Linked DNA regions of Homo sapiens. The protein of the gene in region 3 interacts with the protein of the main gene of each other region in a pairwise test. Each region holds a gene or a part of one and is shown on either strand. Other genes may lie near its edges. The genes, in order: KRT31, ADAMTSL4, JOSD1 and NOTCH2NLC.

The links.
Region 1: the proteins of JOSD1 (region 3) and KRT31 interact in binary tests that used the Homo sapiens proteins (3 or more experiments, as listed by UniProt).
Region 2: the proteins of JOSD1 (region 3) and ADAMTSL4 interact in binary tests that used the Homo sapiens proteins (3 or more experiments, as listed by UniProt).
Region 4: the proteins of JOSD1 (region 3) and NOTCH2NLC interact in binary tests that used the Homo sapiens proteins (3 or more experiments, as listed by UniProt).

The regions. Positions count from the first base shown.
Region 1 is NC_000017.11:41,394,596-41,401,530, forward strand, and holds the start of KRT31 (keratin, type I cuticular Ha1), read right to left. Parts: upstream 3,014-6,935; 5' UTR 2,945-3,013; coding exon 2,597-2,944; intron 2,401-2,596; coding exon 2,318-2,400; intron 1,982-2,317; coding exon 1,825-1,981; intron 1,029-1,824; coding exon 867-1,028; intron 776-866; coding exon 650-775; intron 474-649; coding exon 253-473; intron 1-252.
Region 2 is NC_000001.11:150,552,406-150,559,431, forward strand, and holds part of ADAMTSL4 (ADAMTS-like protein 4 isoform 1 precursor), read left to right. Parts: intron 1-137; coding exon 138-195; intron 196-333; exon of another isoform or gene 334-492; coding exon 493-848; intron 849-1,020; coding exon 1,021-1,717; intron 1,718-1,723; exon of another isoform or gene 1,724-1,959; coding exon 1,960-2,062; intron 2,063-2,129; exon of another isoform or gene 2,130-2,160; coding exon of another isoform or gene 2,161-2,229; exon of another isoform or gene 2,230-2,327; intron 2,328-3,023; coding exon 3,024-3,160; intron 3,161-3,548; exon of another isoform or gene 3,549-3,647; intron 3,648-3,742; exon of another isoform or gene 3,743-3,756; coding exon 3,757-3,961; intron 3,962-4,202; exon of another isoform or gene 4,203-4,215; coding exon 4,216-4,388; intron 4,389-4,533; coding exon 4,534-4,645; intron 4,646-4,744; coding exon 4,745-4,930; intron 4,931-5,088; coding exon 5,089-5,218; intron 5,219-5,287; exon of another isoform or gene 5,288-5,319; intron 5,320-5,539; coding exon 5,540-5,744; intron 5,745-5,831; coding exon of another isoform or gene 5,832-5,887; exon of another isoform or gene 5,888-6,067; coding exon 6,068-6,244; coding exon of another isoform or gene 6,245-6,319; exon of another isoform or gene 6,320-6,343; and 4 more. UniProt on the Homo sapiens protein: Positive regulation of apoptosis. May facilitate FBN1 microfibril biogenesis.
Region 3 is NC_000022.11:38,690,921-38,697,946, reverse strand, and holds part of JOSD1 (josephin-1), read left to right. Parts: intron 1-7,026.
Region 4 is NC_000001.11:149,456,612-149,463,637, forward strand, and holds part of NOTCH2NLC (notch homolog 2 N-terminal-like protein C), read left to right. Parts: intron 1-6,879; coding exon 6,880-7,026. UniProt on the Homo sapiens protein: Human-specific protein that promotes neural progenitor proliferation and evolutionary expansion of the brain neocortex by regulating the Notch signaling pathway.

The DNA.
Region 1 (6,935 bases), on a different chromosome or scaffold from region 3:
TGCAGTCATGCATATTATCATACTAGAATGCAAAGACTTGGCAGTGCAATTTCAGTTTGTACATCAAACAACTCTTGCTACCAAACCATTTATGTTTTAAATGATGGCCATATTATGTTGTCTGAGTTCTGTTTGAGCATGTCTAGTGTGAAGGCATAATTTCCTTTCCAAGGTATGCAATATTTGCATGGTGTCTAACTGTTACACTCACACGTGCATCATTTCATCAAACACGTCTGCCCATGTACTCACTTGCAGTCCTCGCTCTCCAGCAGGCTCCGGTATGTGTTGATCTCACACTCCAGCCGGGCACGCACATCCAGCAGCACCTGGTACTCCTGGTTCTGCCGCTCCAGGTCACTGCGGATCTCCGCCAGCTGGGACTCCACGTTGGTGATCAGGCTCTGCACCTGGGACAGCTGGGAGCTGTAGCGGGCCTCACTCTCTGTCAGCGTGTTTTCCAGAGAGTCTCGCTGTGGTGGAGAAGATTGGGAATGTCAGAGAGCTGCTCCTTCAAAGGGTTTCTTCACAGGATTACAAGGAAGTCACAAGCTCCAAGAGCTAAGGAGAGTGTGTGGCCCCAAGCACATCCCCGGGACTCTGCCTCCCAAGTTCCCGTCGCTCACCAGCAGGTCTGAACAATACACACCAGGTTGTGCTGGGCCTGCAGCTCGATCTCCAGGGCGTTGACTGTGCGTCTCAGCTCGATGATCTCCGCCTGGTAGGACTGCAGCTGCTCTGAGCTGGATACCACCTGCTTGTTCAGCTCCTCGGTCTGAAACACCCAAGGGGAGAAAGGATCAGACCCTGCCTCCGGGGCCCTGGGGGGCCTTGGGTCCTGAGGGGCCACGTGCTTAGATGCCCACCTGCGTGGTGAACCATTGCTCCACTTCCCTGCGGTTGGTTTCCACCAGGGCCTCATACTGACTCCTGGTCTCGTTCAGCACCCGATTCAGGTCCACAGTGGGAGCAGCATCCACCTCCACATTGAGGCGGTCTCCAAGCTGGCAGCGCAGGGTATTGACCTCCTATGGATGCAGAAAATACAAGAGTTACTATGCTCAGCAAAGAATGAACTCTAAGGAATGGCATTGCTTGTTGAAACCCTGTTAGTCTATTTTCTCGGAAAAGAAACTTTGAGTGGAGCAGTTTGTGACAGCTCAAGGCACTCCATGTGGCATAGCCCCCTCCCCACCATCTGCTGTGCCATGGCACTTGGCTTCAGAAAAAAATCCCAAAAGTTTGCTTGGATGCCACTGAAGGATGAACTAATTGATATTCAACTTTCCCAGTTTACAATTGGCTGTGAGGACCTCAGAATGCCAAAAAAAATAGGCTGTGCAATTTCAGACCATATATCAAAAAACTCTTGCTGTCAAGTAAGAGGTAAGAGCATGTCATGGCCCCTCCCAAGAGAGAGGAAGAATCTCACAAACACTCTTCACCAATACTTTGAAAGAGTAGAGACTCACATTTATAAGGTTTGATATTTTTTTTCTTGGCCTTTGCCAAAAAAAAAAAAAAAAGACTTTACAAAGCAATAACACTGCAATGCTAGGACTCATTCTACAACTATTGATCAACTGCAAGCACATGGAGCTGCTCCGGGCAACTCAAATAATGTGCTAGTTTAAAGTGAAAGATGTTTCCTGTCTGGGAACATGAACAGGTCTTATCTCTCTCCAATTTTTCTCTTACCGTGATGTTTTCAAAGGAAACCCTCAGTCTTGTACTCATACTCTGCATTCTGCTGCCCCAAATCACTAAAGCAACCCTGAGCCAGAGGCTGAGACAGGTTTGTGCATTTCTCATTTCTAGTCTCACCTGCTCATGGTTGCTCTTGAGGCAGAGCAGCTCCTCCTTCAGGGACTCCACCTGGGCCTCCAGGTCGGACTTGCACAGGGTCAGCTCATCCAGGATCCTGCGCAGACCGTTGATGTCCGACTCCACCAGCTGCCGCAGGGACAGCTCGGTCTGGTACCTGCGCAAGGACAGGGTCAGAGTACTACCTGGTAGATCTTCAAGACTCACAGGAATGATTTTTGATAACCTCATGTGCCTTATCTTTCCACTTTCTGTAATGAATAGGCCCAGGAGACAGAGGTTTCTGGAGGCTCCATCAATACCCAATATTCATCCCAAAACAAACAGATTGATGTGAGTCCTCATCCATTTTTGCATTTCTTTGCTTGGTTCTCCCCAGTCCTCTGCAGAATCCTTCACAACAAGTGGGTAGATCTGTTTTCAGATGGAAATCCCTTTTCTTTAAAGATTAAACAGAAGCAATTGACACTAGTGCAAATTCCGAACAACTCACTTGGTTCTGAAATCATCCGCAGCCAGCTTGGCGTTGTCGATCTGCACCACAAGCCTGGCATTCTCAGACTTGGTACACAGGATCTGGGGAGTGAGAGGTGGCTTAGTGAGGACTGAAAATAAATATGAAATCATCAACTTTTTAAAAATGACTTAAGCCATTTTGAAATAAAAGAGGAAGCAAGAATTATGACAGCACAGAAGCAAGAAACACACTTCTCTATCACAGACAGAATCACAGCAAACTCTCTTGCTTGGAGATGACAGCAATGCCGCTCACCTTCTGCTGGAGCTCCTCAATGGTCTTAAAATAGGACTGGTAACTGGGGCACAGCAAGGGCTCCTGCTGCTGAGACCGCTCCCGGATGAGGTTCTCCAGCTCCGCGTTGTCCCGCTCCAGCTGACGCACTTTCTCCAGGTAGCTGGCCAGGCGGTCGTTCAGGAACTGCATAGTCTCCTTCTCGCTACCATTGAAGGAGCCCTCGCAGAACCAGTTGCAGTTGCTCACATTGGCGGGGATGTTGCAGGCCCCGGGCAGGGTGCAGCTGTGGCAGCTGGGGGGCACGCAGGGCCGGGAGGAGCAGCTGGTGCGGCAGCTCAGGCTGGGCAGGCAGAAGTTGTAGGGCATAGTGCTGGGAGGGAGGGAGGGAGTGCCTGGCTGAAGACAGAGTCTAAATTCTCCAAGCCACAGAGCTGTGGGTCTCCTTCCTCTAGGGAGCATTTATATCCCACTGCAGAGGGTGTGGACACAGTATGTAATGTCTTTTTTCTTTTTATTTCTTCACTTCTTTTCAAACGCCCTTTCCTTCAGTCTGTTATTTGCCTTCCTCTGAAGAGTCCCTTCTCCCATAAAATTCTTTACTTGGGCTTCTTGCTAAGTCAGGACTCCTCCGCAGACAGTCCACCCATGAAATCAGAGTTCTGTGGTAGGCCTTCAAAGAGGCTACACAGTCCAGCCCAAGTATCTGCCCTCATTAATTGAGGTGTTGATCCATCCGATGACATTCTTTTGTGTCACATAATTCTGCAGGCCCATAAACATACTCATGTCCTGGTCCACCTGCCGTTTCTAGGGAGAAACACGGATTGATTTGAGGAAGAAGTTGCATTAAGAGGCCACAGTGGACTGTCTTTCCCTCTGCATTTAGAGAAGAATCTTCAAATGATGGAGCATTCTGTGCCTTGGAAGCCTTAAGGTGGATGATTAGAATCAATGGAGGACACGACTGAAAAGATTAGACAGCGATTTGTGTTTTACGGGTCCGTGTAATACTTCCCCCCCACCACCACATATTACTTAAGAAAATTGTAGAGGAGAGAATTTTAAAGGTAGAGGCTTTGATAACTAGTTGGAGAACAAGAAGTTTCTGGGGTAAGAGATCGTTTTGAAAGAGGCTGAAAAGTGCAAACCGAGAGAGCCATAAAAAACACATTTAAGGCTGGGCACAATGGCTCACGCCTGTAATCTCAATACTTTGGGAGGCCGAGGCCGGCGGATCACGAGGTCTAGAGATAGAGACCATCCTGGCCAACATAGTGAAACCCATCTCTACTAAAAATACAAAAAAATTAGCTGGGCATGGTGGCACCCACCTGTAGTCCCAGCTACTCGGGAAGCTGAGGCAGGAGAATCACTTGAACCTGGGAGGTGAAGGTTGCAGTAAGCCGAGATGGTGCCACTGCACTCCAGCCTGGTGACAGAGCAAGACTCCATCTCAAAATACAAAACAAAACAAAAAAAATGCATTTAAATAATCTAGGAAAGATATTCAGGGGCAGAGAGAAAGGAATAAGGAGGTCTTTGTCAAACATTTCCTAAGGTTATCCATAGTATCCGAACAGAGTAGATGGATATGTTAGGAAAGTCAGGAGATAGCCCAAAGGGGCCTCCACGGCCTGAAATCACTTGTAGTTGATCTTTAAACTTCATATGAATTGACCCTATATTCCATAATATATCCATGTTGGCTTTAATCTTTATATATATATATATATATATATTTTTTTTTTTTTTTCAGATGGAGTCTTGCTCTGTCACCCAGGCTGGAGTGCAGTGGAGCGATCTCGGCTCACTGCAAGCTCCGCCTCCCAGATTCATGCCATTCTCCTGCCTCAGCCTCCTGAGTAGCTAGGACTACAGGTGCCCACCACCACGCCCGGCTAATTTTTTGTATTTTTAGTAGAGATGGAGTTTCACCGTGTTAGCAAGGATGGTCTCAATCTCCTGACCTCGTGATCCACCCGCCTCAGCCTCCCAAAGTGCTGGGATTACAGGCGTGAGCCACCGCGCCCAGCCAGCTTTAATGTTTTTAAAAAGCCCCTTTTAAATTTCCAGTTAAACTTTCAAATACTTTGCTTAATTCTCTAAGAGAAATGGATACATCAGGAAGATGTACCATATTCTGTCCTGGGCTTCCCATCTCCAGCCCGAGTGGAGATGCCACCTGCTTTAAGAACCAAAGGTCTAAAGGTACCAAAGGAGGTCTCTGTGGTTGTGTAATTAAATCCAAGGACCTGGGCACCAGGAAAGAAAATGCTGAGCACGGCATGAGCAAGGGGGTTTTGCAAGGCAAGCTGGAGTCATTTGGGGTTGCTTTGGGAGGTGAAGGAAGGCACTAGAAGATCTGAGGAAGAGGTAGCCAAAGTTCTGAATATATAAAAGTTGCAGCACCCCCATCTCCACTGTGGCTTTGGCTGCCAGCCAGAGCTGCCGTTTTATTGACAATTTATTGGAGTGCTTCTCCCATTGAGCTTTCATGATGGTATTCATGTTGCACTCTGCTTGAGTCTCAGATAAAAGGTCCTTCATCTACACTCCCCAAGACCATTATCACTGCTTATTATAATGCCATTCAGATGAAAAGCCCCACAGCACTACAAAGAAGATCTAGACTTATAATAAAATCAATACTTTCGTTTCCTTACAAGACAATTAAAGGGGGAGAAATAGGCGGGTCTACAGACTGTTACTCCTGAGACTCTCCAGAGGAAGGACGCAAGGCTAGGTGGCAGCTGTCTGTGGGGAGCTTCTGTCTCATTTCATCTGGGCTTGGGATGAATGGAAAGGCTCGTGCATCTGATTGATGAGCACTAGCTTGTAGATGACAGCATAGGCCTTCTGCTTCCTAACTCTTGTCAGCCTGCTCCAAGCACTGGCTTTCCAGCAAGCAGCTATTTCCTCAGCCCTTTCTTCTTCCCCAGTCAGGCAGGCTTTAACCTAAGCCCAAACTAAATGCCAGCAGTATTCTCCAAGCTCTTGATTCCTATCTACTGATTGGCTGGCATAGCCTCATGGAGACTGTAGTCAAAGAAGAGTGTTTAGGCTCTAAGTATGAGAAGATTCAAGGATTGTATTGACAAGAGAGCAAACATAGAATTTTTGTACAATGCAGAGAGATCAGAGAAATGGAAAGAGACGGAGACCAGGAGAGACAACAAGAAAAAGAAGAGACAAGGAAAAAAGTTGGGAGGAATCCTCAGCATCATGCAGCAAATCAGACAAAGTTAGCCCAGCTTCCGAGGGGCTAACCTGGAAAATGCAAAGCTGAGAAGAAGCCAAGACAAAATAAGCCAATAGACTGAGGAGTGGCCCACCGTGCTGAGTGTCCTGCAAGGCGTAAATGGAGTTGACTCATAAAAGATCTATGGACACAGGACTACAGCTTCTGAGGCCTCTGAAAGAAGTGACATTGTTCCAAGCTGTCCAGACCGAAGCATCACCTCTGTGATCAAGCTTGAGATTGTTTGTGGCTGAGAAATATACTGCCATCTACACACAGGCAGTGTAAAGTCTAAAAGGAGCGACACTGCCTGTTCCTGAAGGAATAAGAAGTGGGAAGAGAAGAAAGGAGAAATGAAGCAGGGAGAGTCAGTCCTGCACTGGCTGCAGGTCATGGCCAGTCAGCAGCCACACAGAAGATGTAGGAGAGAACAAGAAACCCCTGTTATCTTCTGGTTACTCCTAGATATTCCTTTTTCTACCTGCTGGTTGCCCTGCAGAATGTGAAATGGCACAAGAATTCAAGATGGGGACCACAGACAGACTAGCTGGTGAGTAAACACAATGCTGCCATCTCTTGTGAATCTAGCCTCTTTCTTGCAGTGTTTTCAAGATCTCAATGGGCTTGAGTGAATTTGCTCCTTGAATTAGTGGGGAAAATGGGACCCCAGGGTTGTAAGATCCCCATGACCTCACACAGGCGAGGGGTAGAATTCATGTATTCTCTTGGTTTCCTAGTTGGAATATTTGCAAATTTTTTTCATTCAAGGAGAAATTGAGCAGTCAATGGGCTATCAAACCCACATTCATTATCCAGTTCAATTTAATTCAGAACACATTGATTAGACAGCTTCTCTATGCTGAGCATATGACTAAACAGAAGAATCATAGTTCTGGTGAAAAAAATGTCTTTTTATGAACAATTCCGGCCAAGATGGGTCCTCAATATGTATGAGAAATAGCCAGAAGTTAAGGAAAGGAGATATTTAGAAGGTGTAAGATGGGCATTTAGAAATATGTTTGTATTCAGTGTAAATAGAAAACGGGTACTGGGTGCAGTGGCTTGCATCTGTAATCTCAGCACTTTGGGAGGCTGAGGTGGGAGAATCACTTGAGCCCA
Region 2 (7,026 bases), on a different chromosome or scaffold from region 3:
AGGGGAAGTGATGAGTAACTTCTGCTTTCTGAGAAGTTGGTAGTCAGGATATGGGAGCCGGCTGGGGGCGGAGGGCAGTGTTGCAACACCCCCTCTGGCTCCAGTCTGACGTCCCTCCCCTGGCCTTTGGTTTGCAGGCCCTGGCTGTATCTGCTGCTGCTTCTGTCCCTCCCTCAGCTCTGCTTGGATCAGGAGGTGAGTTCTGGACAAGTGAGCAGCTGCAGCCTGCCTGCCACCCTTTCATCTCCCCCTAGGCTCCCACCCCATCTCTCCAGGCCACGCCTCCATTCCCCACAGCCCACCCACCTCCCCTGCCAACTCCCCAGTTCCTTGCCTCATAACACCAAGAGGCCGAGGTGTAGTTCTCCCTCTGCTGCTGAATGTGACCTTGGACTGGTAGCGACTCCGTGAGCCTCAGTGTTGGTCTACATGGACACTCTGGACAGTTCCCTCTAATCCTTCCAATTCTGTCTGACCTTTTTCTCTATATAGGTGTTGTCCGGACACTCTCTTCAGACACCTACAGAGGAGGGCCAGGGCCCCGAAGGTGTCTGGGGACCTTGGGTCCAGTGGGCCTCTTGCTCCCAGCCCTGCGGGGTGGGGGTGCAGCGCAGGAGCCGGACATGTCAGCTCCCTACAGTGCAGCTCCACCCGAGTCTGCCCCTCCCTCCCCGGCCCCCAAGACATCCAGAAGCCCTCCTCCCCCGGGGCCAGGGTCCCAGACCCCAGACTTCTCCAGAAACCCTCCCCTTGTACAGGACACAGTCTCGGGGAAGGGGTGGCCCACTTCGAGGTCCCGCTTCCCACCTAGGGAGAGAGGAGACCCAGGAGATTCGAGCGGCCAGGAGGTGAGAGGCCTGGGTGGAAGAGGTGGGCCTTGGGCAAGGTGGGGGCTTAGCATGAAGGAAAGGGGAGCACGGGTGGCTTCAGAGGGCTTGTCTTTGGTGCCAGGAAGTAAACTGGGGAAACAGGGTCAGAGGTGGTCAGAGCTGTGCCCCCACATCTGAAACACCTTCTCAGGTCCCGGCTTCGAGACCCCATCAAGCCAGGAATGTTCGGTTATGGGAGAGTGCCCTTTGCATTGCCACTGCACCGGAACCGCAGGCACCCTCGGAGCCCACCCAGATCTGAGCTGTCCCTGATCTCTTCTAGAGGGGAAGAGGCTATTCCGTCCCCTACTCCAAGAGCAGAGCCATTCTCCGCAAACGGCAGCCCCCAAACTGAGCTCCCTCCCACAGAACTGTCTGTCCACACCCCATCCCCCCAAGCAGAACCTCTAAGCCCTGAAACTGCTCAGACAGAGGTGGCCCCCAGAACCAGGCCTGCCCCCCTACGGCATCACCCCAGAGCCCAGGCCTCTGGCACAGAGCCCCCCTCACCCACGCACTCCTTAGGAGAAGGTGGCTTCTTCCGTGCATCCCCTCAGCCACGAAGGCCAAGTTCCCAGGGTTGGGCCAGTCCCCAGGTAGCAGGGAGACGCCCTGATCCTTTTCCTTCGGTCCCTCGGGGCCGAGGCCAGCAGGGCCAAGGGCCTTGGGGAACGGGGGGGACTCCTCACGGGCCCCGCCTGGAGCCTGACCCTCAGCACCCGGGCGCCTGGCTGCCCCTGCTGAGCAACGGCCCCCATGCCAGCTCCCTCTGGAGCCTCTTTGCTCCCAGTAGCCCTATTCCAAGATGTTCTGGGGAGAGTGAACAGCTAAGAGCCTGCAGCCAAGCGGTGAGTCTCCTCGGGCCTCCCCTCCCAACCCCGACCTCCAGTGTGGCTTCCCTGCCCTGAAGCTGGGTCTTCAGCTTCCGCTTGGCACCTGAGGGAGAAGGGCCTTGGCATCTGACCACCTCAGGGCAGGGGTCTTGGAGCTCTTCCGCTGACCTGAGCCTCCCACCTGCTCCCCAGGTTCAGCCCTGCCCCTACCCTCATTTTGCTCCCCAGCTCTGACTCCTTTGTACCCCTCACCGCAGCCCTGCCCCCCTGAGCAGCCAGACCCCCGGGCCCTGCAGTGCGCAGCCTTTAACTCCCAGGAATTCATGGGCCAGCTGTATCAGTGGGAGCCCTTCACTGAAGGTGAGGTTTCTTGCTCACCCCTGGGCAGTGGTGGCTTGGAATTGGGGATGAAGGGGAGAGGAGATACCTGCTTACTCCCAGCCCTGAATGACTTCCAGCCCCTCTGCTTCCCCTGCGCCATGCCTTCTTTCTTCTCCCTGGGGCTGGGTCAGGAGACAGCACAGGTGGTGAGTGGTCTGCAGAAGGGTCGGGGTGGGAGGAGGAGGTGTGGGAGACACGCTTTGTCCGGACTCCCCTGGGAAGGCCATCACTGGGGGTCAGGTGGCTGTGACACAAGAGGGCCATGGTGGGAGAGATCCTGTCCAGCCGTGACAGCCAGGTGGGGGTGTGCCACGCATCCTGGGCACTGTCGTATCGGTTGCTCCCAGGTTACCATCCGCTTCATTTTAGGCCTGTGTTAACTTGACACCGGGATAAGCACTCAAGAGCTCTGAACACACAGAATCATGGGCATCAGGGATTGCTCCTCTCTCAGTTCAGAGTCCCCTTGATGGTCTCGGTGACCTCAACTGACCTGACCACCTTTTTTTTTTTTTTTCTGAGACAGAGTCTCACTCTGTCACCCAGGCTGGAGTACAGTGGCACGATCTCAGCTCACTGCAACCTCTGCTTCCTGGGTTCAAGCAATTCTCCTGCCTCAGCCTCCCGAGTAGCTGGGACTACAGGCATGTGCCACCACGCCTGGCTAATTTTTGTATTTGTAGTGGAGATGGGGTTTCACCACGTTGGCCAGGCTGGTCTTGAACTCCTGACCGAATGATGCACCCACCTCGGCCTCCCAGAGTGCTGGGATTACAGGCATGAGCCACTGCGCCCGGCCCTGACCACCTCAGCTTGTGCTGTTGTCACATTTCCTTCATCCACAGTGACCTGGGCAACCTCAAGGTGCCCCCTCTGGGGCCTCTCTCAGCTAACCTCCCACCAGGGAGCCCACTAACCACCCTTCTACCCTGTCCCTTAGTCCAGGGCTCCCAGCGCTGTGAACTGAACTGCCGGCCCCGTGGCTTCCGCTTCTATGTCCGTCACACTGAAAAGGTCCAGGATGGGACCCTGTGTCAGCCTGGAGCCCCTGACATCTGTGTGGCTGGACGCTGTCTGGTGAGGGAAGACAGTGTGTGTGTGCACACACACATGCATATGCACACAGACACATGCCCCCATATGCATACACATGTACACACATATGTATGAACACATGCACACATGCAAGCACATACACACACGCATATGCGCACAGACACATGCACACACGCACACACACACACGCACACACACGCATATGCACACACATGCACATGCATATGCAGACACATGCATGCACATGTGCACACGTGCATGAACACATGCACACACACGTATGCAGACACATGCACACACATGTAGACACACATGCATGAACACATGCACACATGCACACACACGTATTTGCACAGTCTCAATTCAACAACAAAACACCATACTGAGATCACTGAGGGAGAATTCTCACCTGCCAAGCTGCGCTGAGCAGAGCCTGAAGGATCTGATCGGGCACCTGTCCATGTCCCTGGGTCTGGCTGGGGATGGTGGGGCTGTTTTTGTGCTCTCACTTGTGGCACAAAAAGCAGGGTAGTGAGCTGAGGCTCCCGAGGGGACCGGGGTGGGGTTGAGGTGGTGTCTGGCGTTCTGTGGCCACTGCCTCACCTCACTCTCTCCAGAGCCCCGGCTGTGATGGGATCCTTGGCTCTGGCAGGCGTCCTGATGGCTGTGGAGTCTGTGGGGGTGATGATTCTACCTGTCGCCTTGTTTCGGGGAACCTCACTGACCGAGGGGGCCCCCTGGGCTATCAGAAGATCTTGTGGATTCCAGCGGGAGCCTTGCGGCTCCAGATTGCCCAGCTCCGGCCTAGCTCCAACTACCTGGGTGAGCACCCAGCTGCCTCCCCTTCCACTTCCGTCTCTGTTCGGCCCTCCATACCCCTACTCAGAGCAGTGAGCAAGCCAAACAGGGGGAAGTCCAGGGCCTAGCCCCTCCCCTCGTGGAAGGAGTGAGGAAGCTGAGAGGGCTTGGGGGGATCTTAGGTTCTGGTGGGAGCTTCTATAGGCTAAGGACACGGTGTGGGAGGAGGAAGGTATTATCACCCTGGAATTTCCCGATCTCTCACCTCTGACCCGCAGCACTTCGTGGCCCTGGGGGCCGGTCCATCATCAATGGGAACTGGGCTGTGGATCCCCCTGGGTCCTACAGGGCCGGCGGGACCGTCTTTCGATATAACCGTCCTCCCAGGGAGGAGGGCAAAGGGGAGAGTCTGTCGGCTGAAGGCCCCACCACCCAGCCTGTGGATGTCTATGTGAGCCTGGGGCCAGGGGCAGCTGAATGCTGGGGAGGGAGGCTGTTCCCTCTGGGCAGAGCTGTGGTTGTCAAGATGGGAGAGAGAGCTGGTGGCATCCTCTTCTGGCCACCCCCACATATTCATTATCTTCTCTTCTCCCCAGATGATCTTTCAGGAGGAAAACCCAGGCGTTTTTTATCAGTATGTCATCTCTTCACCTCCTCCAATCCTTGAGAACCCCACCCCAGAGCCCCCTGTCCCCCAGCTTCAGCCGGGTAAGACTCTGACCCCTGCACTTGGAAGGAGGAGGGAGAGGCTGCAGGGCTGGCTCGGGGCAGTGGGGTGGCATCTGATTCGCCTGCTCCCCTGCACAGAGATTCTGAGGGTGGAGCCCCCACTTGCTCCGGCACCCCGCCCAGCCCGGACCCCAGGCACCCTCCAGCGTCAGGTGCGGATCCCCCAGATGCCCGCCCCGCCCCATCCCAGGACACCCCTGGGGTCTCCAGCTGCGTACTGGAAACGAGTGGGACACTCTGCATGCTCAGCGTCCTGCGGGAAAGGTGAGACATCACAGTGCGTTCCCCGCATCTCGGTCCAAACCCCCCAACTGACACTCCCGCATCCTGGATTGTGGGGCCACGCCCGACCCTGCGTCTGGGACACCACTGAGCTTGGGCTCTAGCCTCCTGCCTCCCTGGCTGCCTTCTCACCCACTCAGGTGTCTGGCGCCCCATTTTCCTCTGCATCTCCCGTGAGTCGGGAGAGGAACTGGATGAACGCAGCTGTGCCGCGGGTGCCAGGCCCCCAGCCTCCCCTGAACCCTGCCACGGCACCCCATGCCCCCCATAGTGAGTATGGGGGAGCCCACGGGGAGGGTTAGGGTACTGGAAACACAGCAGTTGCCCCCAGAATCTTACCTGAACTCTGCACTCAACGCAACATCTCCTGGCTGCAGAGAGACAACATTAGATTAGAAAGGCAGACATTCGGTAGGCAGCAAGAAAGCCATGGCAGGCTGAGCCCCCCAGGAACCCAGACTCCAAACGCCAAACGTGCCCACTCTCCTCTGAGGCCCCCACGTCCAGTGTGTCTTCCATCTCTGCTGCCACGGCAGCCCCACACATCTCATCTATGTCTCCGCCTCTTCCCTGCCCTGCTGGTGCCTGCAGCTGGGAGGCTGGCGAGTGGACATCCTGCAGCCGCTCCTGTGGCCCCGGCACCCAGCACCGCCAGCTGCAGTGCCGGCAGGAATTTGGGGGGGGTGGCTCCTCGGTGCCCCCGGAGCGCTGTGGACATCTCCCCCGGCCCAACATCACCCAGTCTTGCCAGCTGCGCCTCTGTGGCCATTGGGAAGTTGGCTCTCCTTGGAGCCAGGTGAGTTTGCCCAGGCAAGGAGGTGCTGGGGAGGGGAATGGGCACAGGTGAACAACAGCAGTGGTTTTTCAACTTCTTTTTCATCAGCAGAAACTATTTACAAACAGGGTTTCATATGGACCCCCAATATAGAAGTCAGATAAGGGACTGAACCAGGGACTGGGGGCCCAGGGCCCTAGGGCTCAGCCTCCTCCTCAGCCCACGAAGCCATGTGACTGCTGGGCTGGGGATCGAAGGCAGAGCCTGGTTCTGAAGCCTAGAGCTGGAAGCTGGCTGAGAAGGTCTGGGAAGCCCAGCTCCCTGGATTCCCCTCGCCCCCTCAGTGCTCCGTGCGGTGCGGCCGGGGCCAGAGAAGCCGGCAGGTTCGCTGTGTTGGGAACAATGGTGATGAAGTGAGCGAGCAGGAGTGTGCGTCAGGCCCCCCGCAGCCCCCCAGCAGAGAGGCCTGTGACATGGGGCCCTGTACTACTGCCTGGTTCCACAGCGACTGGAGCTCCAAGGTGAGCCCGGAACCCCCAGCCATATCCTGCATCCTGGGTAACCACGCCCAGGACACCTCAGCCTTTCCAGCATAGCTCAATAAACTTGTATTGATCAAGCGCCTGCTATATGCCTGACCCTGGGAACTCAGAGATAAGTGAGAACAACTTCCATGAGGGGCCCGGCTAGGATTCCTCGTCCGGGCCTGGTACCCGGGGACATTCCCAACCACCCAGGATTCGGACCCAGGATGCGTCCCTCCCTGCCCCCCTACTGTCCCTTGTGCCAGTCACCAGCAGGCCCCTCACACAGGCCGCTCTCCTCCTCCGCAGTGCTCAGCCGAGTGTGGGACGGGAATCCAGCGGCGCTCTGTGGTCTGCCTTGGGAGTGGGGCAGCCCTCGGGCCAGGCCAGGGGGAAGCAGGAGCAGGAACTGGGCAGAGCTGTCCAACAGGAAGCCGGCCCCCTGACATGCGCGCCTGCAGCCTGGGGCCCTGTGAGAGAACTTGGCGCTGGTACACAGGGCCCTGGGGTGAGGTAAGCTGAGCGCCTGCTGAGAGCAGGAAGGGGGTGCCAGTCCCAGTGGGATTCCTTGTGGGCACTTGGGGTGCTCTCTGTCCTCCCCTCCCCTCATCACCCTGCCCTCCCCCTACACTAGTGCTCCTCCGAATGTGGCTCTGGCACACAGCGTAGAGACATCATCTGTGTATCCAAACTGGGGACGGAGTTCAACGTGACTTCTCCGAGCAACTGTTCTCACCTCCCCAGGCCCCCTGCCCTGCAGCCCTGTCAAGGGCAGGCCT
Region 3 (7,026 bases):
TAAATTCCAGAAACAAGATTCTGTGTATCCAGTCACACTCTGGTAGAAAAGTTTTCACTTCTGTACATTTGGCCCCTGATCTGACTATGGGAATAATGATAGGATCACTAACACACATGAACACTTGGTGCAAAGCACCGTTCTGAGTGCTTTCCTTGTGTCCACTCAGTCCTCACACTGATCTTCCAAGATGGATTCTGTTGCTGCCCATTTTTCCAGTTGAGGAAATCATGGCACAGAGTTCACAGCTATTGATGGCAGAATTTGGCCCCACGCCTTTTGACTCTAGAACCTGCCCCGCTAACCGCTCTCCTGTTTCTCGAGTACTGGAAGCGCCTGTAGAGTGCTATCAGTAGCTGTTCCTCCAGCTGCTGAGCTGGGCCAGCACTGACGTTCTGGACTGTGCTCATCAAGTGTGTGTGGATGATAACAAGAGTTTCTCAGCTTTGTTCTCCTGAATACAAGAATGCTAAATATTTGCTAAATGCCCACATGGAACTAAGATCCTATTCCTTTTGAAGCTTTAGCAAATTGTACTGCATTCCCCAATTCTAGCAGCATAATATAAAGATCCAAAAAGTGCTGGCAAGCCAGCACATAAGGGCATGTATTCTGTCCCAACTCCAGAAGTGGAATTCTGTGTAGAGTATTTTATATTGAAAGAATGTATGAGTAGGTAGGAACAAAAAATACAGAAGTGTGAAAGGAATCTAGAGGAAAAAGCAAAGGGAGAAGAGGTGAGGGAGAGAAGATGGAATTTTTTAAACAAACATTGACTAGCTGCCTGCAGAGTGCCAGGCACTATGAGGCACCATAGAGAAAACGAGTCGAACAGGCCTCAGCCCCTGAGAAGCACATCTCAGCTATGCTTTAACCAGGCCTTGAGACTAGATTTAAGTGAAGTTAGAACCCTGGCATTCAGAGCAATTAAAAAGTGAAAAGTGATCAATTTGGACCTTAGCAGATATAATTCTATGCTGTTTAAAAGTGTGGCTAGTGAATGGTAGAAATGGGAGGGAAATGTTGATAAGCACTATTTGTTGAGAGGAAGTTCATCCTAGCAGTTGAATTTTAGCCAGAAAAAAGAAGCAAAATACAAAAGCAGGGTGGAGTTTCAATAGAGTTGTGGATGTGAGATGATTCATGCTTACAAGTGAATAGGAACTCAGAGCTGAGCTAATGACTCAACATGGCGGCAACAAGGACAGGAAGAGAGGAGTCAGGTGTGTCAGAGGCTTGGTCCAGGATTTGAACATAGTGGTAACATCTGCAAAAAGAGGTCATTTGTTTAAAAAGCATCTGTTTTCAACCTGTGAAATTGGAGAAAAGATAAACTGGGCAAGTGTCATCAGTGTATATGTATACAGATGTAGATATTAGATCTCATCATTTTATATAAAGAATGTGGGCCAGGCACGGTGGCTCACGCATGTAATCCCAGCACTCTGGGAGGCAGAGGTGGGCACATCACCTGAGGTTAGGAGTTTGAGACCAGCCTGGCCAACATATAGCAAAACCATGTCTCTATTAAAAAAAACAAAAATTAGCTGGGGTGATGGCACACGCCTGTAGTCCCAGCTACTCGGGAAACTGAGGCAGGAGAATCACTTGAACCCAGGAGGTAGAGGTTGCAGTGAGCCAAGATCGCACCACTGTACTGTAGTGTGGGCAACAGAGTGAGACTCCCATCTCTCAAAAAAAAAAAGGGGGGGTATAAGGTTTGAAAAAAAGGGTCATAGAAATCAAATTACATGATGGCAGCTTTGCTAGGTGGTTTTGAAAATGCTCAGGCCTGAAACATTTTCACTAGACTCATCCCAGTTTTTTAGTGATCAGATTCTTACATCTAGTTCTGCATTCCTCTCCCAAATAGGATTTTTCCCCCCACCCGAGACGGAGTCTTGCTCTGTCTGCCTAGGCTGGATTGCAGTGGCGTGATCTGGGCTCACTGCAGCCTCCGCCTTCTGGGTTCAAGGAATCCTCCTGCCTCAGCCTCCTGAGTAGCTGAGAGTATAGACGCCCGCCACCACATCCGGCTAATTTTAGTATTTTTGGTAGAGACGGGGTTTCACCATGTTGGCCAGGCTGGTCTGAAACTCCTGACCTCGTGATCCACCCACCTTGGCCTCCCAAAGTGCTGGGATTACAGGCGTGAGCCACCGTGCCCGGCCTTGGATATTTAATATTAAAATTTAACCACGGCTGGGCTTGGTGGCTTATGCCTGTAATCCCAGCACTTTGGGAGGCCGAGTTGGGTGGATGGCTTCAGTCCAGCAGTTTGAGACCAGCCCGTGCAACATAGTGAGACCCTATCTCTACAAAAAATTTAAAAATTAGCTAGGCATGGGGGCTCGCGCCTGTAGTCCAGCTACTTGGGAGGCTGAGATAGGAGGATGGCTTGAGTCCAGGAGGTCGAGGCTGCAGTGAGCCATGTTCGTGCCACTGCATTCCAGCCTGGGCAAAAGAGTGAGACCTTATCTCAAAAAAAAAAAAAAAAAAAAACTAGGCAAAAAGTAGCTTGGTATCAAGGGAAAAAAATCTAATGAAAGTTGGAAGGAGCAAAGAGATTGGGGATATTGGTGAACAATTAGCATTCTCTACCACAGAGGATGACTATTCCAGCCTCCCCATTACATAGTCCTTGAGCAGGTGGAAGGGGCCACATTTAGAAGTATGGTGGTTATAACTGAGAAAAGTTGTTGTTAAGTATTAACCTCTAGAGACTTGAATTCTCTTGTCCAAGGGCTAGGCAAACACGTAGTAATAATAGCTAACACCTACGGATTACTAATGTGTGCCTAGCTCTTTGACCCATGCCTGATTTAGAAACATCAGGAAGTTCTGAGCCATATTTTCTGATGTCACATCTCTTCAGATCTGATAAGGAAAGAAAGAATTAGGGCGGGGAAAAGAATCTTGATGAAATGTCTCCTATCTCCTTTTTCATTAATATCCAAAATCATCACCATAGTCAGACACAGTGGAAACCATGAGAGAGGAACAAGGACTTATCTGAGGACACAGACAGTGGGGAGACCTGGACTAGAACCCGTCTTTTCACTTTTTTTTTTTTTTTTTTTTTTGAGACTGAGTCTCTCGCTCTCTTGTCCAGGCTGGATTGCAGTGGCATGATCTCGGCTCACTGCAAGCTCCGCCTCCCAGGTTCAGGCCATTCTCCTGCCTCAGCCTCCCAAGTAGCTGGAACTACAGGCGCCCACCACCACGCCCGGCTACTTTTTTGTATTTTTAGTAGAGATGGGGTTTCACCGTGTTAGCCAAGATGGTCTCGATCTTCTGACCTCATGAACCGTCCACCTCGGCCTCCCAGAGTGCTGGGATTACAGGCCTGAGCCACTGCGCCTGGCCCGTCTTTTCACTTTTACATCACTTCACATCTCATGGCTCTAACCTCTGGCTGTGGATGACAGAAGTGAGAGGCTCACTTTGTAGCCCAGAATTTCTATGGAAATCATTAAGACAGTCCCAAACAGGAGTTTGCCAAGGAGTCTCAAGAATACTTTCCACTGGAATCATCAGGATCCCATGGAACTCAGTGGGACTGGTGTGTTGAAATATCCAGAGCACTCTTCAGTATTGTCTTAGGGTAGAGGCTGACCCTAGCCCTGCCACTCACCAGCTGTGCCTGACTGTGCAAGTCACCATAACCTTTGCACCTCAGCTTCCATGTTTATGGTATCTCAAGATGGCTGGAAGTGATAAAGCCCATAAAAGCAGCTAACACAGTGGCCACTTGATTACTGTTAAAAGTACAAGCAAGTGCTGGTGTGGTGAATACGCTGGGTGGGCCCCACTTATTCAAATGACCATTCCTCTAGCATGAGATGGAAGCTACTCAATATTTCCTGTATTCAAATTGCCTAACGTGTTTATTGAGTTGCCAGTGCCTAGCTGTGAGGGATATAGAGTAAAAAACTATCCAGGGATTTAGTGTTTGATTGAACATATATGAAATAACTGAATTCTCCAACAGTCCTATAAAATAGTAATTATTTCCATTTTTACAGGCAAGGTAACAGGCATGGAGATTAAATCCCACAGTTAGTGTTGATCGGTGCTAGGATATGAACTCAGATATGTATGGTCCTCACTCTCCCTCCCTTTTTTACAGAGGATCCAGGGAAGATCCTATGGAAGAGATAGGGTGTGAAGGAGCTGTAGGATTTGGCTTGGAACAGGAAATAGGATAAAAGAATAGAGGCTGCTGGGCACAGTGGCTCAAGAGGGAGGCTGAGACAGGAGAATCAGTTGAGCCCAGGAGTTTGGGGCTACAGTGAGCCACAATCATACCACTGTAATCCAGCCTAGGTGACAGAGGAAGAAAAAATAGAATAAAGGCCATATGATCATGGTGCCTAAAGTGCACTAAGCCCAGTGAGAGGGATATAGCTGGCCAAGTGGGGCCAGGAAGTGTAGAACTGGCCAACCAGGCAGTTGGTACCATTGTCAGTTCCTATATATACAAAGGGAAGTGAATTGATGCCTTGGTGAATTTGGCAGGAACATAGAGGCTGAATTGGTGGAAGGAGCGCTTGGAAGCAAAGTGATCAATTTTTAGGAATCTGTTTCAGAAGTCAAGGTGTGAGGTAAGGAGCCTCTGGTTAGGAGAGAGATGGAGTGGTAATAGGAAAGGATTTGAATCCAAGACAGAAGATGAAGGACAGGGAAGAAAGATCATTGGAAAGCTAGTTCTGTAAGGTACACCTCAAAACAAATGTGTGGTCAAATTTGTTTGGGAACTGAAGCATATTTTATAATCCCCTTTCCTTGAGATTCAAAGTGAAGATTAGCATGTTAGGGACTCCAAGAATTCTGCAGGAAACCCATTTACCTACTTGGTTCATTCAGCTGTTATTGTATTGGATGCCTTCTGGGATCCTCTGTTAATGAACATGGAAATGGCATCTCCAGGAGCACCCTTGGGAAGCGCCGCTCTAAGGTTTGAGCCTGGTAGGGAGTTAGATGGTGAATGAGGTGGAAGACTCAGCATTTTCCTTGTTGGAGCCTTCATTCATGTACTGGTCAGAGACTTCAGTGAAAGGAACAAGAAACTTGGGAAAGGAACCAATTATATCAGGGGCTAGGCCTTCTTTCATATGTGTTCTGTTCTCTTTTTTTCTTTCTTTTTTTTTTTTTTTTTTTTTTTTGAGACAGAGTTTTGCTCTTGTTGCCCAGGCTGGAGTACAATGTCATGATCTTGGCTCACTGCAACCTCTGCCTCCCGGGTTCAAGCGATCCTCCTGCCTCAGCCTCCCGAGTAGCTGGGATTACAGGCACCTGCCACCACACCTGGCTAATTTTTTTGTATTTTTAGTAGAGATGGGGTTTCACTATGTTGGCCAAGCTGGTCTCAAACTCCTGGCCTCAAGTGATCCTCCCACCTCGGCCTCCCAAAGTGCTGGGATAACAGGCGTGAGCCACTGCACCTGGCAGTGTGTTCTCATTTAATCCAAACGTGTGAGTACCCATGGAGAGCCTTTGTCTTTTTAAGCTATGTTTCATCCCTAGTCCTCAGGGATGTAGCTGGCCTCTCTTCTTTTCAAGCCCCCATCCCCTGCCACTCTGATTCTTGGGTCCTTGCTGTAAGACAGCAAGCATAACTTTGGATTCAAATGAATCCACAGTGGAATCCTAGTTCTGTCACTTGCAAGTGCTCATGGGCAGGTCAGTTAAAACCACCAAACCTCAGTTTTATGGACCTATACAATAGAAATAATTCATATCCTCATAGGTTTATTGTGAAGATTAAATGAAATGCAAATTAAAGTACCTTATCATAGTGCTTGGCACAGAGATTTTTCAATAAGTTATAGTTATTATTACAGGTAAGATAAAGTTTGGTTGCAGATTTCTTTGCTAGCCCTGGAGATGAGCATATAAGCCCTTTTAAGAGTCAGTTACTGATGTTTACAGGGAAAGAGAAGGACAACAAAAATAAACACTGAACATTTCAGCAAACATTCCTTGAGCACCTGTCTTGTGCCAGGCACTCTTTAGGCCCCTAGCAGTGTAGCGTTCACAGATAGTCAAGGCCCCTGCTGTCAGTCTAGTGTAGAAAAACAGACCAATGAGAAACACATCTGGTAGTGACAGGGCTGTAATTAAATCAAAAGGTTGATGTGAGGTAGTGACTGGGAGAAACTTATGGTTGGGTGGTCAAGAAAAGGCCTCTCCGGAGGTTGTAGTAAGCTGAGATCACTCCATTGCACTCCAGCCTGGGCGACAGAGCCAGACTCTGTCTCAAAAAAAGAAAAAGAAAAGGCCTCTCTATGGCAGTAACATTTGACACCCAAACAATAAGGAACTACAGAAAGAACATTCTAGACAGCGGGAACAGTGAGTGCATGAGTGCACAGTGAGAAAAAGAGCTTTGTTTTTAGGGAACAGTAAGAAGGTCAGTGTAATAAAAGGTAAGAGATGAGATCTGCAGGACCTTGAGGGCCTTGCATGCCAAAGGAAGTAGTTTAGAGTGTATTTAAGTGCTTTAGGTGCCATCAGAAGGTTTTAAGCAGTGGCAGGAGTATGTTTGTTGTTTTTAATTCTGTGGGTTTTTTTTTTTTTTCTTTTTTTTTGAGACAGGGTCTTACTCTATCACCCAGGCTGGAGTGCAGTCATGGCTCACCACAGCCTTGACTTCCCTGGCTCAGGTGATCTTCCCACCTCAGCCTCCCGAGTAGCTGGGACCATAGGCACATGCCACCATGCCCGCCTAATTTTTGTATTTTTTGCAGAGACAGTGTTTTGCCATGTTGCCCAAGCTGGTCTCTAACTCCCAGGCTCAAGCGATACTCCCACCTTGGCCTCCCAAAGTGCTGGGATTGCAGGTGTGAGCCACCACTCCCGGCCAGGAGCATGGGGTTTTGTTTTGTTTTGTTTGTTGGTTTGTTTTTTGAGACGGAGTCTCACTCTGTCACCCAGGCTGGATGCAGTGGTGACATCCAGCCTCTGCCTCCTATGTTCGGCTCACTGCAGCCTCTGCCTCCTACGTTCAAGCAGTTAGCTGCCTCA
Region 4 (7,026 bases), on a different chromosome or scaffold from region 3:
CCCTGTCCCTTGTTCTGACCTCATTTCAACTCAGTCACCCAAGCCAACCTCTGAGTTGCCTTTCACCTGTCTATTCCTCCCATTTCCTCTGCTACCCTGTAGCTGAAGGCCATGTTATCTCTCACCTGGGCTTCTGAAGTAGTTTCTGAATACGTTTTCTTGCCTTTATTCTCTCCCCATCTCATTCACCCATGATATTACTACATCTTTGATTATAAATGCAAATATTCTAACAATCTCACCTGCTTACAATGTCTAATATTTTTTCATCATCCGCAGAATAAACTGCAAACTCTTTTACATGACTTCCATAGCTCTCTACAGCCTAGACTTTACATCTTTTTATAGCCTGGCCTCCCCACAAGCATCTAGGCCTAGTCACACCAAATTCTCCTTATTTCCTGAAAATGTTGTACTTATTATTGCTTCCATACAGTTACACACCCTTTTGCCTGGAATGCCCTTTTCTACAACTGGTGATTGTCCAATGTTATTTAAAACTGTGTCTTAGTGACCCTTTCATGATTCCTTTAGGCAAATGGTCTCTAAGTTTTATTAGTTTTATGTATCACATTTTATTGTAATTTTTTTTACACATATCTCACCTGAATAGATTGTGGGTTTTTCTAGGTGGGTCTGAGCTTTATTCAAAAGTGTTTATTAAATTAGATGAGAAAAGGAGGAACATTCTTCATTTTTTCTCCTGCTTTAAGCACTAAACCAAGAGTTCTATAAATGCAATAAGCAAAAAAGTGAAAAATGTACTCAGAAGACTATACTGGATCAGTTAGTGTAGAATACTGTTATATTAATTTTTCATTGTATTAGGGTTCTCTAGAGGGATGGAACTAATGGAATATATATGTATGTATATATATTCCAACCCAAAGTGTCTTGGTGGCAATCTTAATATATATATATTGGCAATCTTTATATATATATAAAGGAGAGTTTGTTAAGTATTAATTCACATGATCACGAGGTCCCACAATAGGCTGTCTGCAGGCTGAGGAGCAAGGAGAGCCAGTCTTGAGTTCCAAAACCGAAGAACTTGGGGTTCGATATTTGAGGGCAGGAAACATCCAGCACGGGAAAAAGATGTAGGCTGGGAGGCTAGGCCAGTCTCGCTTTTTCATGTTTTTCTGCCTGCTTTATATTTGCTGACAGATGATCAAATGGTGTCCATCCAGATTAAGGGTGGGTCTGCCTTCCCCAGCCCACTGACTCAAATGTTAATCTCCTTTGGCAACACCTTCACAGACACACCCAAGATCAATACTTTGTATCCTTCAATTCAATCAAGTTGACACACTCAGTTTTAACCACCACAAATCTACCCCTTGTCAACTTGAACCCATACACATCTCCTGAGATCACACATAATCTTCAAATAAAGACAATAATTAGGTCATAATTACACCTGATGTAGTACAACTATTCTTCGTACATCCGGAAACACACCAGTCCCCAACTGAAACACTCTTACATAAAGTTAACGATACTTAAATGCTGATGTGAAGTCAATAAATCTTATGTCACATGATAAAGGAGAAAGGAAATAAAATGAAGATATTTTCTTAGTACAAGTGTGTGCAAGCACAGACATGTTTTTAATAAAAGAAGGAGGAAATACTGAGGACAATTACAGTCCTCATTTCTGCAGCTGGTCACATGGTAGTAGCTGGTATTGATGACTACCTTCTTCTACCCATTTTGTATTCCTTTTGCCTTCAGCAAACACCTCAGCAGGTTGTGTTTTTTTTTTTCCTGATGGAGAGGCCCAAACCTTCATTCATCCAGGCGGGACCATTTGTAGTCCCGCCTGGATTGGGCTGTTGTAGTTGCCCATTGACCTTAATCACAGGGCATGGTAATACTAAGAGACGCCCTAATGGATCTCCTGTATTCCATGAATACTCTTTCTTACCTCCGTTCTGGAGTAGTAGACTGATTTCATCTTGATAGCCTGGGTCTTGATAGCCTTGATGTCCCAGCCAACACTGTAACGCCTTTCTTAGCCTGTTTACTTAAAGGTAGGAACCCAAAGTGTCCTGGTGGCAATCTTAACTACCAGTTTAATGGAATTGTTGTTGTGTCTTCTGGTGGCAGCGTTCCTCCCTCTGGAACTAAGACCTCTAGGCCAGCAGAACTTAATGTTGCGGGAACAGGAAGCAAACATTTTGCTAGTGGATCACTAGGGGTGATGGTGAGTGGTACCACTTCCATTTCCACCCCTTGATTCCTGGACCTGTGAATCCTGGCTATGGGAGAAACAGTACCACATATTGGACGCTGATTCAGAGCATACACAGCCTTCTTGAGAACTTTGCCCCAACCCTGCAAAGTATTCTCACCTAGTTGGCATTGTAATTGTGACTGCAAAAGGCCATTCCACCGTTCTGCTTCAGGATGTTGGGGAACATGGTAAGACCAGTGAATTCCATGAGCATGAGCCCACTGCTGCACTTCTTTAGCCATAAAGTGAATGCCTTGGTCAGAGGCAATGCTGTGTGGAATACCATGACAGTGGATAAGGCATTCCATGAGTCCGCGGATGGTAGTCTTGGCAGAACCATTGCATGCAGGATAGGCAAACCCATATCCAGAGTAAGTGTTTATTCCAGTAAAGACAAACATCTGCCCTTTTCACAATGGAAGAAGTCCAACATAATCAACCTGCCACCAAGTAGCTGGCTGATCACCCTGAGGAATAGTGCCATATCAAAGGCGCAGTGTTGGTTTCTGCTGCTGGCAAATTGGGCACTCTGCGGTGGCAGTAGCCAGGTCAGCTTTCCACCGGCCCATCTTGTTTTCTGCACTGGGAAGGTGGGGCATGAGCACAAATGTTAGGACCTGAAAGGTGGTGAACTCTGCCTGGGCAGGGCAAAGCCAGAGGAAACTCTGGTGGAGGTCCGTAGCAGTCCTGATGTGCAAATCGGTCATCCAACCTGGGTGTAGGGGCGAAAGACTAATTGAACCATCTAGTAGCTGGTTCCCTCCAAAGTTTCCCTCGGGATAGCTGGCACTCTCGCAAAAACCCCACTCTTGGTACCAATTTACTGTATTAGTCCATTTTCACGCTGCTGATAAAGATATCCCCGAGACCGGGAAGAAAAGAGGTTTAATTGGACTTACAGTTCCATATGGCTGGGGAGGCCTCAGAATTATGGTGGGAGGCAAAAGGCACTTCTTTCATGGTGGTGGCAAGAGAAAATTAGGAAGAAGCAAAAGCAGAACCCCTGAGAAACCCATCAGATCTCATGAGACTTATTCACTATCATGAGAATAGCACAGGAAAGACTGGCCCCCATGATACAGTTACCCCACTGGGTCCCTCCCACAACACATGGGAATTCTGGGAGATACAATTCAAGTTGAGATTTGGGTGGGGACACTACCAAACCATATCATTCATCAAAAGGTGTTGGTGGGGTAGAGGGTAGTTAGGATGATCCATGATCTCCATCATGATGATGATGGTATTGATGATGTAAGTCACTGAAAATATTTGGTGTTATAAGAATAATTTCTTCCTGATTGTCAGTTTTGAGTTGTTTTGCTATTAGGAGGCAAAGTAGGGGGGCATATACCCACTTAAAATATTTTAATTCTGGCTAGTGGAAATGACAGTAATGCCTTCTTCATAATTAAAATGTCACTCTGAAATGGTCCCAAATTAAGAAGGATCTCTTTTTGGTGTGTTCTGCAAGATTCTGATCACCTTTTTTTTTTTTTTTTTTTTTTTTGAGATGGAGTATTGCTTTGTCATCCAGGCTGGAGTGCAGGGCGCAATCTCGGTTCACTGCAAGCTCCACCTCCCGGGTTCACGCCATTCTTCTGCCTCAGCCTCCTGAGTAGCTGGGACTACAGGCACCTACCGCCATGCCCGGCTAATTTTTGTATTTTTAGTAGAGATGGGCTTTCACCTTGTTAGCCAGAATGGTCTGGATCGCCTGACCTCATGATCCACCCGCCTTGGCCTCCCAAAGTGCTGGGATTACAGGTGTGAGCCACCACACCCGGCCGATTCTGATCATCTTTTATACATATGCTATTTTTGTCTATCACTTTAGGAATCATCACAGATCAAGGTCATCCTTTTGGTTTTTGTGATAGCGCTATACCTCAGTCAGCTTACTAGCTCATCTCCACTCAGAGATGAAGAAGCATAGGCAGCAAGTTAGTGCCTATACATAATGTATATGGAAACCAAATTCAGGGTTGATTCTTTCTTTCTTTCTCCCTTTCTTTCTTTCTTTCTTTCTTTCTTTCTTTCTTTCTTTCTTTCTTTCTTTCTTTCTTTCTCTCTCTTTCTCTCTTTCTCTCTCTTTCCCTCTCTCTTTCTGTCTTTCTTTCTTCTCACTCTGTTGCTTAGTACAGTGGCGCAGTCTCGGCTCACTGCAACCTCCACCTCTTGGGTTCGAGTGATTCTTGTGCCTCAGCCTCCCAGGTAGCTGGGATTACAGGTATGTGCTATGAAGCCCGGCAAATTTTTGTAGTTTTAGAAAAGATGGCGTTTCACCATGTTGGCCAGGCTGGTCTCAAACTCCTAACCACAAGTGATCTGCCCACCTCAGCCTCCCAAAGTGCTGGGATTACAGGCATCAGCCACCACTTCCGGCCCAGGGATCTTTCCGTTTCAGTTGTGGGCATCACTCTGAAAATCACACTTGCTAGAAGTGAGCATTTATATCTCTTCTCCACTGTAAATAAGTGCCTCTTAGTGACATGAGTGGAAAGACAAGAAGAATTGCAGTTCCTTCATTTTCTGTCTTAGCTCCCTGAGATGTATATGCTGTGCCTAAATTTGTGTTATAGTTTTCTCCTTTGATTTGACATTCCTTGATAGGCAGAGAGCACTTTTCTGTGCTCATATGTCACATCTCGCATCTTTTTCCCTTATAGAAAAACTCTTGTGTCTCCCATTTACCTTTCTATGAGGTCAGAGATTTAGATACTTTCCTAGACAGTCAACTGGAGTATTAACAAATTCAAGGAGTTCTCGCCATCCCATTACTGGGTATATACCCAAAGAATTATAAATCGTGCTGCTATAAAGACACATGCACACGTATGTTTCTTGCGGCACTATTCACAATAGCAAAGACTTGGAACCAACCCAAATGTCCATCAGTGATAGACTGGATTAAGAAAATGTGGCACATATACACCATGGAATACTATTCAGCCATAAAAAAGGATGAGTTCATGTCCTTTGTAGGGACATGGATGAAGCTGGAAACCATCATTCTCAGCAAACTATTGCAAGGACAAAAAACCAAACACCGCATGTTCTCACTCATAGGTGGGAATTGAACAATGAGAACACTTGGACACAGGAAGGGGAACATCACAAACCGGGGCCTGTCGTGGGGTGGTGGGACGGGGGAGGGATAGCATTAGGAGATGTACCTAATGTAAATGACGAGTTAATGGGTGCAGCACACCAACATGGCACATATATACATATGTAACAAACCTGCATGTTGTGCACGTGTACCCTAGAACTTAAAGTATAATAATAATAATAATAATAATTCAAGGAGTTCTCATCTCTGTAGTTTAAATAATAAGCGACTTAGACTAATGACAACAAAAAGCCAGCCATGTGAATACCAAATTTACTAGTTCTGTGAGGATATTTTTTTCTCTTTCTCTTTCTGCCTCAAAGAATCTGCTTTGCTTCCCCTGGCATCATGATTTAGTTTTCAACCCGTCAGAGTCTTCCTGCTAGTGCTGGTACTTTCCTACTTGAGAAAGTCCACGGAATACCTTCGAGACCTCTGTCCTCCTGATGGCTTCTATTTCATTTGTTATATAGGGACCCAGAGGTCCTTCATCATTTTCAAACACATCAACAGATATTTATAGCAAGGCCACAATTAATAAAATGTTTCCCAGAATATATGTGTGTGTTACATTTAGAGGAAACAGAAGTAGTATTGACTTGTTTCTATCACCAGAGGTCTATTTAGTAACTATATTTTGTGGAAAATATCGATATATTTTATCCATTCAACAGACATGATTTGAGAGCATACCATGGAGACCCAACCCTGCCAGTGTGGCAGGTGGTATAATAGAAGAAAATAGCAAACTTGGTGTATCTGTGTTTGCGCACATGTATGTATGTGAGGGGCACTAAGGATGACTTTACAGAGGTTGGAACTTTAGAGTTGCCAAGATAGGGAGAGTTCACTAGGAAAACAGACGGGAAGTTGATTTTTTTTTTTTTTTTTTTTGAAATGGAGTCTTGCTGTGTTGCCCAGGCTGGAGTGCAGTGGTACAATCTCGGCTCACTGCAACCTCCGCCTCCTGGGTTCAAGTGATTCTTCTGCCTCAGCCTTCCAAGTAGCTGGGATTACAGGTGCGCGCCACCATGCCCAGCTAATTTTTGTATTTTTAGTAGAGACAGGGTTTCACCATATTGGCCGGGCTGGTCTTGAACTCCTTACCTCATGATCTGCCTGCCTCGGCCTCCCAAAGTGCTGGAATTACAGGTGTGAGCCACTGCTCCTGGCCCGGAAGTTGATATTCAAACAGGAGCAGCATATGCAAAGACAGCTCTGAGAGAGTAGATGGATCCAGACTCCTATTGCTGATAGCGTCCTGCAGGATTGGGCTTCAATGTGACTAACCTACAATTGCCTCCAGGTGCTCCACCCACTGAGTCCTTGTGTCTCTGCTGAGGTCCTTGGAGAGTTACTGGAGAGGGCTCTGTGTCAGATGACCTTGAGGAGGCTCTGATTTAGCCTTTAGTAAAATGCAAAGAGTTGAGGTCTTCTCCACGCAAGAGCTCGCTGATGTCAATGAGGTATTGAGGATGGGGCCATCTCCTATTTCTGTGGCCAGTACTGAGTTTTGTTATCCTTCCTTTAGGTAAGGAGTGCCAATGGACCGATGCCTGCCTGTCTCATCCCTGTGCAAATGGAAGTACCTGTACCACTGTGGCCAACCAGTTCTCCTGCAAATGCCTCACAGGCTTCACAGGGCAGAAGTGTGAGACTGATGTCAATGAGTGTGACA